Linked DNA regions of Homo sapiens: region 1 is linked to region 2. The links come from fine-mapping of genetic effects on gene expression. Tissue or cell type: prefrontal cortex. Region 2 holds a variant in brackets; the other region holds the start of a gene. All regions are shown on one strand. Distances are from middle to middle.

The links. PIP is the estimated chance that this variant, and not a neighbour inherited with it, causes the effect.
Region 1: it holds the start of NOD2, and the variant in region 2 is fine-mapped to the expression of NOD2 in prefrontal cortex (BrainSeq, PIP 0.95).

What each region holds. Positions count from the first base shown.
Region 1 is chr16:50,690,393-50,696,414 of GRCh38, reverse strand. NOD2 (nucleotide binding oligomerization domain containing 2) reads right to left here and starts at 2,809. Exons shown (of 12, transcript NM_001370466.1): 1 at 2,753-2,809. RefSeq lists enhancers at 1,840-1,919, 2,160-2,209 and a silencer at 2,580-3,089.
Region 2 is chr16:50,668,226-50,674,122 of GRCh38, reverse strand. SNX20 (sorting nexin 20) reads left to right here. Exons shown (of 4, transcript NM_182854.4): 4 at 49-2,494. The coding sequence ends at 717. It overlaps LOC101927272 (a long non-coding RNA gene), which reads right to left and starts at 5,268. Exons shown (of 3, transcript NR_110908.1): 1 at 4,963-5,268; 2 at 3,130-3,440; 3 at 2,484-2,975. The variant G/A (reference allele first, on the strand shown) is at 2,780.

The DNA of each region.
Region 1 (6,022 bases), 22 kb before region 2:
TCAGTTACTACAACTTCAAAGACACCATTGTCCTCCCCAAGGTGAGGCCCATGTAGAGAAAGGATCACTTCCTTGCTGAAAGAGAGGGTCAAGGGGCGACCCACGTGGGCCCTCCCTGAAACCCAGGCCCAGGCCTGAGCCTGGACACCTCCTTCCTTCCTGAGACCACAGCCAGCCCGGTTTCTCTGGGGCCAAGAGCAAATGCTTTGCTTAAGTGCTGAAATCTCAGCCCACTGACCCCTTGCAGACAGGAGAGGAGGGGAAGCCCAGGGAAGCTCAACTTCCCAAGTGTCCTGAGTCTCTGCTGGGGCCAAGCCCCCCACCCTCCCCCAGCTATCCTGCATTCTCCCTCCCTAACACTGTTCTCTCCCTAAGAGATCAAATCCCCCCACCAGTGCACAATGCACTCTAATTCTCCATTGTAAAAGTAAAGCACTCTCTTGACACTCCCCTTCTTCATTTGGCTCCAATCCCATTTATCTGCTCCCTTTACAGCAGGCCCCCTTGTCTGTTGCCTGTACTGCTGTCCCCAAGTCCTCCCATCCCCTCCCATTCCCTCTAGTTCCCCATCCAGCTCCAGTGAAACTGTCACCAGTGACCTCCCATTGCTCAATCCTCAGCCCTCAGCCTGCTTGCTCTGCCAGGGGCATTGGTCATATTTGTTCCCTCCTTCCTCTTTGGGGCATTTTCTTCATTTCCTCCAGGACACCCCAACTCTCTGATTTTCACTCTTTCTGTCTTCTTGGCTGGTTCCTAACACTGGGGGCCCCAGCACTCAATGGTTAGACCCCTTCTCTTCTCCATATCACTCCATCCCTAGATGAGCCCACCTGCTCTTGTGGCTTTAAATACCAGTTATATGGTGATGATGCCCAAAGTTTTATTTTCAACTCCAACCTCCGCCCTTAACTTTTCCCAACTGCTTACTCATCATTGATGCCTAATGGGCAGCTCAAACTCCACAAGCACAAAACCAAACTCTTGATCTCTCCGCTAAGCAACTCCCATTTCAGTTCATGGCAGCTTCAAACCTCCAGAAGCTCGAGCCAAACACTCAGAATCATCTTTGACTCTACCTTTCTCTTGCACCCCAAACCCTATCGACACGGCCTTTGAAATATATCCCAAATCTGAATGTCTGGTTTTCTTTTTTTTAACCACCTCTGGGCCATGGGCAAGACACCATGGTCTCTCCCGAGAATGACAGCAATGATCCGCTCAACGGGCTCTCCTTCTGCCCTTACCCCACCCCCCCCATGATCCATTCTCCACCCCACAGCTAGATGGGCCTGCCAGACCCCAAGTCAAAGCAGGTGACTCCTCTGTTCCAAACCCGTGCTCCCATCATGCTCAGAGTGAAAACCAAAGCCTCCCAGCCCCCCAGATACTCATGTGGCTCACCCCTCAATTCCTTATGACTTTGCCCAGCTATCGTGGTCTTGGGGAAGCCTTCCCTGGTTGTGCTATATACAATGCAATACCCAGCCCCAGCACCCCATCCTGCTTCCCAGCTTTGTTTTACTCGTAGTACTTCCCGCCACCTGCTACGCCATGTATTTACTTATTTCATTGCTGTCCATTCCTTTCTAGAGTGTGCACTCCATGAGGGCAGGGGGTTTTGTCTGATTTTCCTACTGCTCTGTCTCGTGTCTCATCCAGTGCATGAATGATGACTGCTGGAAAGAATGAAAGAACTGACTTGCTCTGCATGGCTCCGGGAGACAGACATGGAACCAAGGTGTAGAATCTGTAAGCCACAGATTTTAGCTAAAGGAAACAAGAGCTGCAAGGCACTAAAAAGCCACCTCATCAGTAATAAGCTCCCCACCACTGGGCATGTGTCACAGAGGGGCTCTGCACTGGGTAGGAGGGAGGTGGGCTGGATGAGGATGCTTCCAGCCTCAGATCCCAGGGTGCAGCGAGGCAAAGGGGCCTTGAGCAGCCAACAAACTCAGGGGCCCCAGCAGCCCCATGGCTGAGTGATCGGGACAGGCAAGTACAGGTGGTGGGGATGTCACTCTGGTCTTTTTCACTAAGGGGTCAGGGGAGGGTGACAGGGCAGGTGTTTCCCCTCTGTAGAACAAGGACCCTGGAGGAGGCTAGGTCACAGCCCATGGGGAAACCAAGGCCATGGCAGGAGAGGCTCAGAAAGAGCAAACTCAGAAGCAGGGGTCCAGCCCCCAGCCCTCATGCAGCTTCAGGAGGTCCTCCCCAGGGGGATTGGGGTGGAGGGCTTTTCAGTTTGTTGGAATGAAAGCAGGACCAGATGGCTGCTCCATCAACCTGAGAAGCATAGGAGAGCAAACAGCTGGGGGATGTGGCCTCGCAGGTCCTGGTGTGGGCTGTCTGGGAAGGGATGGATTTGAACTTAGATCTCACACCCAACAAGGGAGAAGGAGGAGGCAGGAGATTCCCATAAGAGGTACAGAGAGCAGCAGCAGGATCCTCCAGGCAGACTCTCTCACTTATACCCACCCACTCACTGGCATGGTGAAGCTGGGGAAACTGAGTCCCACAGAGAGGAAGGAAATCAAAAGAGTGGCCCAGGGGCCTCCCCAACCTCGAGATGCCCCCTTTCCGTCTCACTTCCCATCTACATTCTGGGACTCCCCCAGGAGAAACCGAGGCAACCCTTGCCCAAGCCCTGCGGCCAGGACGGCTCAGAAGCCAAGTGTTCAAGTCCCGGGGGTGGGACCCTCGGCGCCCACAGTCTCCCCCCAGCCCACCCCCAGGCGCTGGGCACAGCACTCACCGCGAGCCGCCTGCGCGCCGACTCCAAGGCCCACTCCGGGCCACGACTCCCGGCTCCGGCTCCGGCTCGGGCTGCGGCTCCGGGTGCGCGGGCGCTCGGCTCCGCCCCCGCCCGGACCCCGCCCCTGCTCTGCCGGGACCGCAGCACCCGCTCCTGTCCCGTGGCCCCGCAGCCCCGCAGCCCCGCAGCCCCGCAGCGCCGGCTCCAGGGCTGGCCAGGCTTACCTGGGACAGGGCAGGACCGGGGCTTCCTGCGGGGCTGGACGGCCCTGGCTGTGTGCCCTAGCCAGTGTGCCTCTCTTTCTGGGCCACGTTTCAACCAGGAGGGAATCGGGGAGTCCTCGGAACAACCCGCTTCCCAACACATACACATACACACACACACACACCACACACCACACACACCGCTTCCCAGCACACACGCGCACACACACACACCACACACACACCGCTTCGCAACACACACACACGCCCTGCTTCCCCCCCACACGCAAACATGTTTCCCAATACACACACACAGCCCTCGCTTCCCCCCACACACAAACATGCTTCCCAATACACACACAGCCCTCGCTTCCCCCAACACACATACCTTGCTTCCCAACACTCACATACACACACACACACGCCCTGCTTCCCCCCACCACAAACATGCTTCCCGATACACATACACCCCCTACTTCCAACACACACACCCTGCTTCCCAACACTCACACACACACCACTTCCCAACACACACACACCCTGCTTTCCCAACACATACACCCCACACACACCGCTTCCCAACACACACGTGCACACACACACACACCCCACACACACACCACTTTCCAACACAAACACACACTACACTCCCTGCTTTCCCAACACACACACACCCCACACACACTGCTTCCCAACACACACGTGCACATACACACACCCCACACACACACCACTTCCCAACACACACACACCACACCCCACACACACCACTTCCCAACACACACACCGCTTCCCAACACACACAAACATGCTTCCCAATATACACACACCCCACTTCCCAACACACACACATCGCTTCCCAACACACACATCGCTTCCCAACACACGCCTCACTTCCCAACACACACACACACACACACGCACACACAGCCAAAACTAGGAAAACTTTTCCAGAGTGTGACAGGTTACATGTTAGGTAAGAGTGGACTGGTCATTTAAGGTTCTTTTTTTTCATTTTCCTTTCAGTTTTTCCGTTTATGTTGAATGGAGTTTATTTCTCAGTTTAGTACTAATAGGGTTTGAGTACCTTTCTAGCACTGCCTAGATTACTTGGCTCTGAAACTATCTAATTAGCTTTAATAGCATTGTTTTTGTTTCCATTAAATATATTTTATTTTACATTCTTCTGTTCTCCGGAGCAAATGACACCGGTTTTCCATTTAACATGTTAATGTAAATGTTCCTTTTGAAACTCATATTTGGTTGTTTTAAAAAATGTGAAGTCAATTTTTAAAAATAACGAAAATAACTGGCATCTAGAAAGTGTTTACCATGTGCTAGTCTTTACAGACAGTAACTCAGTTACTTCCACCTCTAGGGTATTGACTATTATTGCCTCTAACTTATAGATGCAGAAACTGAGGTACACATTTGAACTTTGATCTCACGCCCACCAAGGGAGAAGGAGGAGGCAGGAGATTCCCCTAAGAGGTGCAGAGAGCAGCAGTAGGATCCTCCAGGCAGACTCGCTCACTTACACCCACCCACTCACTGGCATGGTGAAGATGGGGAAACTGAGTCCCACAGAGAGGAAGGTACTCAAAAAACAGTGGCCCCCTCTGAGACCTGAAGCCCGGGCTCCTCAGGACTTCTCACTCCTGCCAGGGGCCTCCCCAGCCTCGAGATGCCCCCTTTCCTCTGGCACCAGAGATGGGGATTTGCCCCAGGCCTCTGGCACAGATGAATGCTCTAACCACTACCCCATACCGCTTTCAAGTAAATACCTGTGCAGGTGGTGCACAGTCAGCCAAGGTTGGAAAATGCTGCATTAGAAGGACTGAATCTACCCTAGAAAATTCATTCTGGGCAGCGCACAGAACCATCTACAAGGATGTTCACCACCATCTTGCCTACAGCAGTGAGAAGCTAGAAACCTCCCTAATGCCCAGTAACAGAAAATTAATTAAGAAAACTGACAGAACATCTGAACCTAGAACACTTAACCCGACCCATCTTCTCTCAGCCCCACTATCCAATCTGGGAGCAAATTTTTCAGCTTGGCCTTCAAATATTTCCAAGCTGCAGCCCATTTTTGCCATATGCACCATTACCACCTGGGTCCACATCTCCATCATCTCTCACCTGGGTGATAGCAGGAGTTCCTGGCCATTCTCCACGCCTCCATCTACAGCCCTTCTTCAATCCAGCAGCCAGAGTGAGTCTGTTGGTTTTGCTGTTGTTGTCGTTGTTGCTGTTTTAAGTCAAATTCTATCACTCCTCTGCTGAAACTCTTCTGTTGATGGCTCCCATCCCAAAGTAAAAGCCAAGGTCCTTACAATTGCTGTTTGGCCTCTGGCACCCTCTCTGCCCACCTCTTACACTCTCATCTTACTCACTCTGCTCCAGCTACACTGGCCTCCTGGCTGTTCCTCAAATATGCCAAACCTGCAGTTACACTCAGGCCTTTGCCTTTGCTGTGCCTGGAATGCTCTTTCTTTAGAAATCTACCTGGCTCCCTCCTTCCTCTCCTTTGGGTCTTTGCTTCCATATGACTTTCTCGGCAAGGCCTTCCCTAACTATTCGGTGTACAGCTGCAACACCCTCCAATCCCTTCTCTCCTGCTTTATTTTGTATTTTTCTCCATAGCGCTTATCTGCACACAACACATTATGTATTCTACTTATTTATTGTCTTTGTTGTTGGTCTCTCACCCAAGACAGCATGAGCTCCAAGGGAACAGGGAATTTTTGCTTTGTCCCTTGCCTTCTCCCAAGGCCTAGAACAGGACCTGGCATGCAATAAATCTTTGTTGAGTGAATATACTAAAAATAATGCTGTGGTTCTAATAACCAATGAAAATAAATGAATCACTGTACCCCCACGAGAACTGCAGCCTCACAGACATAATGTTGGGTGAAACAGGCTGAGTGCAAGAGCGTGCATACGGAATGGTATCCTTTCTATAAAGTTCAAAAGCAGGCAAAACTGCATTACAGGTAGGAGCCAAGATAGAGGCTACCACTGGGGAGAAAGTTGGAGGTAGTGACTAGGGGAGGAGTGAAGGGGA
Region 2 (5,897 bases):
GCAGCCCCCGCCGGGAGGTGGCCACAGCTCTCTCTGGTTGCGCCCTAGGTGTACCAAATCATCGTCATCCAGACTGGGAGCTTTGACAACAACAAGGCCGTCCTGGAACGGCGCTATTCCGACTTCGCGAAGCTCCAGAAAGCGCTGCTGAAGACGTTCAGGGAGGAGATCGAAGACGTGGAGTTTCCCAGGAAGCACCTGACTGGGAACTTCGCTGAGGAGATGATCTGTGAGCGTCGGCGCGCCCTGCAGGAGTACCTGGGCCTGCTCTACGCCATCCGCTGCGTGCGCCGCTCCCGGGAGTTCCTGGACTTCCTCACGCGGCCGGAGCTGCGCGAGGCTTTCGGCTGCCTGCGGGCCGGCCAGTACCCGCGCGCCCTGGAGCTGCTGCTGCGCGTGCTGCCGCTGCAGGAGAAGCTCACCGCCCACTGCCCTGCGGCCGCCGTCCCGGCCCTGTGCGCCGTGCTGCTGTGCCACCGCGACCTCGACCGCCCCGCCGAGGCCTTCGCGGCCGGAGAGAGGGCCCTGCAGCGCCTGCAGGCCCGGGAGGGCCATCGCTACTATGCGCCTCTGCTGGACGCCATGGTCCGCCTGGCCTACGCGCTGGGCAAGGACTTCGTGACTCTGCAGGAGAGGCTGGAGGAGAGCCAGCTCCGGAGGCCCACGCCCCGAGGCATCACCCTGAAGGAGCTCACTGTGCGAGAATACCTGCACTGAGCCGGCCTGGGACCCCGCAGGGACGCTGGAGATTTGGGGTCACCATGGCTCACAGTGGGCTGTTTGGGGTTCTTTTTTTTTATTTTTCCTTTTCTTTTTTGTTATTTGAGACAGTCTTGCTCTGTCACCCAGACTGAAGTGCAGTGGCTCAATTATGTCTCACTGCAGCCTCAAACTCCTGGGCACAAGCAATCCTCCCACCTCAGCCTCCCAAGTAGCTGGGATTACAGGTGCACACCACCACACCAGGCTAATTTTTAATTTTTTAGTAGAGACAGGGTCTCTCTGTTGCCCAGGCTGGTCTCTAACTTCTGACCTTAAATGATCTTCCTGCCTCAGCTTCCCAAAACACTGGGGTTACAAGTGTGAGCCACCACCCCTGGCCTGGGGTTCATTTTTAATGGGAAAAGCCACTGGGGGCTCTAACTCGCTGGGTGACTTTGGACAAGCCCCTCCTCTGGTCCTCAATTTCTCCATCTGTATTGGACAGAGGTGCTCCTGGGACCCCTTGGAAGCCTCTGCTTGTGTCCCACGTCCTCTTGATGCCAGGGCCACTTCATCTCCAAAACACAAAACCAACTGCCAAAACCGTCCAGAGCAGTGTCCACCCCACCAGTGTCTTTGTGGGAAGCTGGAGAAGAAGTTTACCTCACACATTCTAGACAAAACTTAGTCCATTTCCTTGAAGACAGTTCTCTCCAGCTGCTCCAAGGCTTTTCTCTCTGTTCCTTCCACCTTGGAATTGCTTTAAAATATTTCCATCCATTATCCTAATACTATCTTAGTATTCTAGCCCTTCCCCCTTACCATGTAGACCTGACAAAGCAAAACAAAAGCTCACCTATTGCCCTCAAGAACAGCCTCTACACACACACACACACACACACACACACACACACACACACACACGGTGGGAGTTGTATGCCATCCTTTTGAAGGGTGGGAGGACCCTGGACCAGAAAGCAATAATGGCATAAGATTCTGTGATACCAGGCATTTTTGGCAAGGGAAGTTGCCAACAATTTTTCTGGCTGGGATGGCATAGCACATTGTCTAGGGGTGGATTTTCATTCATAAGGCAGCTGTTCCCTGAATGGCTTCCCTGGGTTATGTAGAAACAGCCTGGGGAGGAGGTGATACAACATACTTAATGGGGCCTCTGGGCAGAAAACAGACTGAATCCTCAACACTGCCCCTTTTGAGGGTCTGTGATCCTGGAACTTCTCTGATGGACTGGGATGCCCTTAACTGAGGTCTGCTGTCTGGAAAGGACACCACAGGCCCAGAATGAAGGGGCATCTGGACCAATGACCTAGATTCAACACAGGGCTTGGAGCTGGTGGTACAGGCTGGTTTTGGCCCAATGTGTGTTGGAGGCTGGAAGCCCCTGAAGACCTAAACTGCCTGGATGAGCTTATTAGGGTGAATTAATGAGTCTGTAATTTGGGAACCTTAATGTGAGACACCACTTAAGGAGAGGAACTTGGCCCAGCAAGTGATCACTCTAGAAGTGGACAGCTATGCACTAGACTGCACCAGAATCTGTTCAACAGCGACACCTTGTGGTAAAAACTGTAGACGCCCCATCAGGCTGGATGGGAAACTAGAAACAGACTGTCTCATCTTTGGACAGATATCCCTCAAATCTCCCAATCTACTCCAGGGAAAAGACACTTCAAGTGAGAGATATTGGACTTCTTGAAAATCTAGGCCTATGGAAAATTAAAGTGTTAAATGGAAAAATTAAAGAGCTATGAGTCTATTTGTAATGATGAAACAGATGATATTGATTTTGTCAGTTATTTCTTCAAATCTAAAATGCTATCAACAATATGCAACAAATGTTTACTAACAAAGAAAAAATACCCAACATGGACAGTTTAATGGGATATTCCAGCACAAAAGCTGGAAAAGCAAAGAGTTAGACCCCCGATATGAGGGTTAACACCAAATAAGCCTGTTGTACAGGAGGGGACATTAAGGAAATTTGCACAAACTAAACTTGGCACTGGGTGGAGTACAGGGAACTTCCTCTGAGAATTTGAACTGCAAGCGGGCACTC[G/A]CCCATGTTTTAGGGCTGAATACACACAGCATGGTCCAAAATCCCTCAAGCAGAGAAATCATGTTAAAGTGGTCTCAGGTGGAGGTGTTCCAGGTGCCTCAAGACCTGGAGATCTTTAGGTCTTCCCTGGGGCTGAAGGATGTCAGCATCAAGCCAGGCCTATAAGAAGTGTAGGATCCTGTTGAGTTCAGAGGTGCTGAAATGTGAAAAAAAAAAGTCATCTCAAAATCACAGATAGATGATATGTGTGGGGTGTTGGGGGGGTGGGGCGGGGGGTGCACACAGAGAGAAAATACTTATATGGGAGTAAAGGAGCCTATAGAATCACATGGGGGGTTCCCCATAAGTACCTCTGAAGAGGGGTTGGCTTCCCACACAGTGCACAGGAAATGGATTTATTCAGGCTTCCCAAAAAGGGACTGGCCACATGGGGCAGCTTCAGGACCATCACTTTGCCTTTTCCCGATGACACTCAATGCTGCCCCTCCTCGTGCTTCTGGCAGCCTTGGCCTGAGCATCCACGGGAGTTTCTTCTGGCCATGGACACTGCATCTTCATCCACTACAAGTTGTCTGATGGACTGGGATGGCCTGCCACAGCCAGCTCCTCCTGGCATCTCCCATATGCTGCAGCAGTTAGAGCCCACTCGTTCCTTGGGTTCCTGGAACAAGTCCTTGAATTCCTTAGGCCCCCACCTCCAGCAAGCTTTCCGCAGGGCCCACTGCAGCCCCACCGGGGTACCCCACCTCCCTGTTTGCCTGGGCCCTCTCCCACGCCACCTGTATTAGTCCTTGTTTCTAGGGGACTTTAGAGTGGTGGCAGCTGGGACTGAACATTCTTCTCCTGACCCCTCAAAAGCTGGGTCCACAGGAGAGGTGAGGGGGTACCTGACCTCCATACCCAGGATGGAGCCTTGTTAGGAACACAGAATTTCAGGCCCCACCCTAGACCTGCTTAATCGGAGTCTGCACTTTAACAAGAGCATCCCCCACTGCCGCAGGTGACTCTTACCTGCATACCTCAAAGGTTGAGAAGCCCAGTGTTGAACTGACTTGAAGGCACCTCAATGAAAATCATCCATGGAACTGGGCCATCTGTGGTCCTGGGTTCATCCCCATCCTTCTCTTCTCTCCACCCGGGCCCTCTACCATACAGGTGCCTCATCCCAGGGGACTGCAGATGGGACTACCATGCCAGCCTCACAACCATACCTGCAAAACCACTCTGGGCATTTGGACTGGAGCTTAAAGGGGTTCATTCCAATGAAGCCCTCCCTGCTGCAGCAGCCACTCCCCCCCACTGGCTGTGATGGAGTCCTGGGGTCTCCACTTTGAGCTGGGATTAGGCATCCTCATGAGACCCTGTCCCCTGGGATGCCGGCAGTTCCCTGCCAAGCCCACAATTGAAAACAAGCTCTGCAAGCAGCTCCCTGTGCGGTAAAAGTCAGGGCTCCCCAGGCCTACTGTGTGACCAGGCACTGCCGGGCCATTGATAGCACCGTCACTCCAGCTCTGCTTGGGACATGTTCCTATCCCATTTTTCAGTTGAGGAAAATGTGATCATTTGTAACATTGTAACCTGAGGGGGTTAAGTGACTTGCCCAGGGTTACACAGCTAATAACTGGACCAGGAAATTAAGACCAGGCTTTAATTTGACCCAAGCCCTACTTTCCTTGCTGAACTCCACATTAAAGGATGTGGAGGAGAGGGGAAGGGATATGTTCCTGGTCCCCTCACCGAAATGGGTCCTTGATATGGTTTGGATGCATGGTGGTCACCTCCAAATCTCATGCTGAATGTGACTCCCAGTGTTGAAGGTGTGGCCTGGTGGGAGATGTTTGGCTCATGGGGGCAGGTCCCTCATGGATGGCTTGGTGCCCTCCCCGTGGTAATGAATGAGTTCTCACTCTGTTAGTTTACATGAGAGCTGGTTGTTTAGAAGAGCCTGACATGGCTCTTGCTCCCTCTCTTGCCATGTAAGTCACGAACTCCCCCTTCCCCTTCCACCATAAGTGGAAGCTTCCTGAAGCTTCACAAGAAGCAATGCTGGTGCCATGCTTCTGTACAACCTGCACAACTGTGAGCCAAATAACCCTCTTTTCTTTATAAGCTACCCAACCTCAGGTATTCCTTTATAGCAATGCAAAATGGACTGACACGCCTTTAAAGATCATTTCACTCACCTCTGTTTACAGATGGGGAAATCAAGGCCTGGAGAGATGACTTATCCAGGGTCACGTGGCGAGACAGGGACAGCACCAGAACCAGACCCGAGATGTCCACGTCAAAGTGACATGCTCTGAGAGGCAGCACACACAGAATAACCCTGCATCCAAATTCCAGGAAGCTCTTAGGGGTCATCCAGCTGGGCCTAGGGGTGCAGGGTCAGTGCTGAGGCCTGGGCAGGGCCGCTAGCCTCCCTGAGCTTTCTGGCTTCAGGCTGGGAGGCACAGTTCAGGGTGGACTGTGACCCCTTGGCCTAGAATGCCCTTAGCTCTGCTCTCTAGTGGCTGTCCCCATAGCTGGAACTCTGTTTTGGAGTGGCAAAACCAGTTCCACCTGCTGGTAGGGGTAGGTTGGCTCCCAACACATCCCCAGCAGGCCTCTCTTGGGCTCAAAAGCCAAGCTGTGCCCAGCCACGTCTCCAAATGCTTCCTGGCCCCCATGCAGCAACTGCATTTAGCTGCCTTCCCAGAATTTCCTGCATGCTCACACAGCCCTTCCCTCTGGGGCCCAACAATGCCACAGCCTGTTCTATCAATCACCAGCTGTTTTCCTTTGAGCAGTCTCCTTTTACTTATGCACATTTACTTGAAAAAGAAACTTCCTATTACTATCCTAAATGGAAACTCAGAATCACTTGCTATAATTAGAAAGTAGCTACAAAAATAAACACAATGAAACCGATCACTGTTATTACACCCTAACCCGCTTTTACCTGAGACAGGCCCTGAGCCTGAGGCCGCTGGTAGACTTTTGTTAAAAGAGAGAGAGACAGAGACAGAGAAATAAGCATTAGAGACCTGCAATCACCAAGCTGAGACTTCTCTTTGATTTACTCAGAAGGACTGGAAAATGTTGTCCTGCAAAAGGAGGTAAGTTTCTCACCACGTAGCGC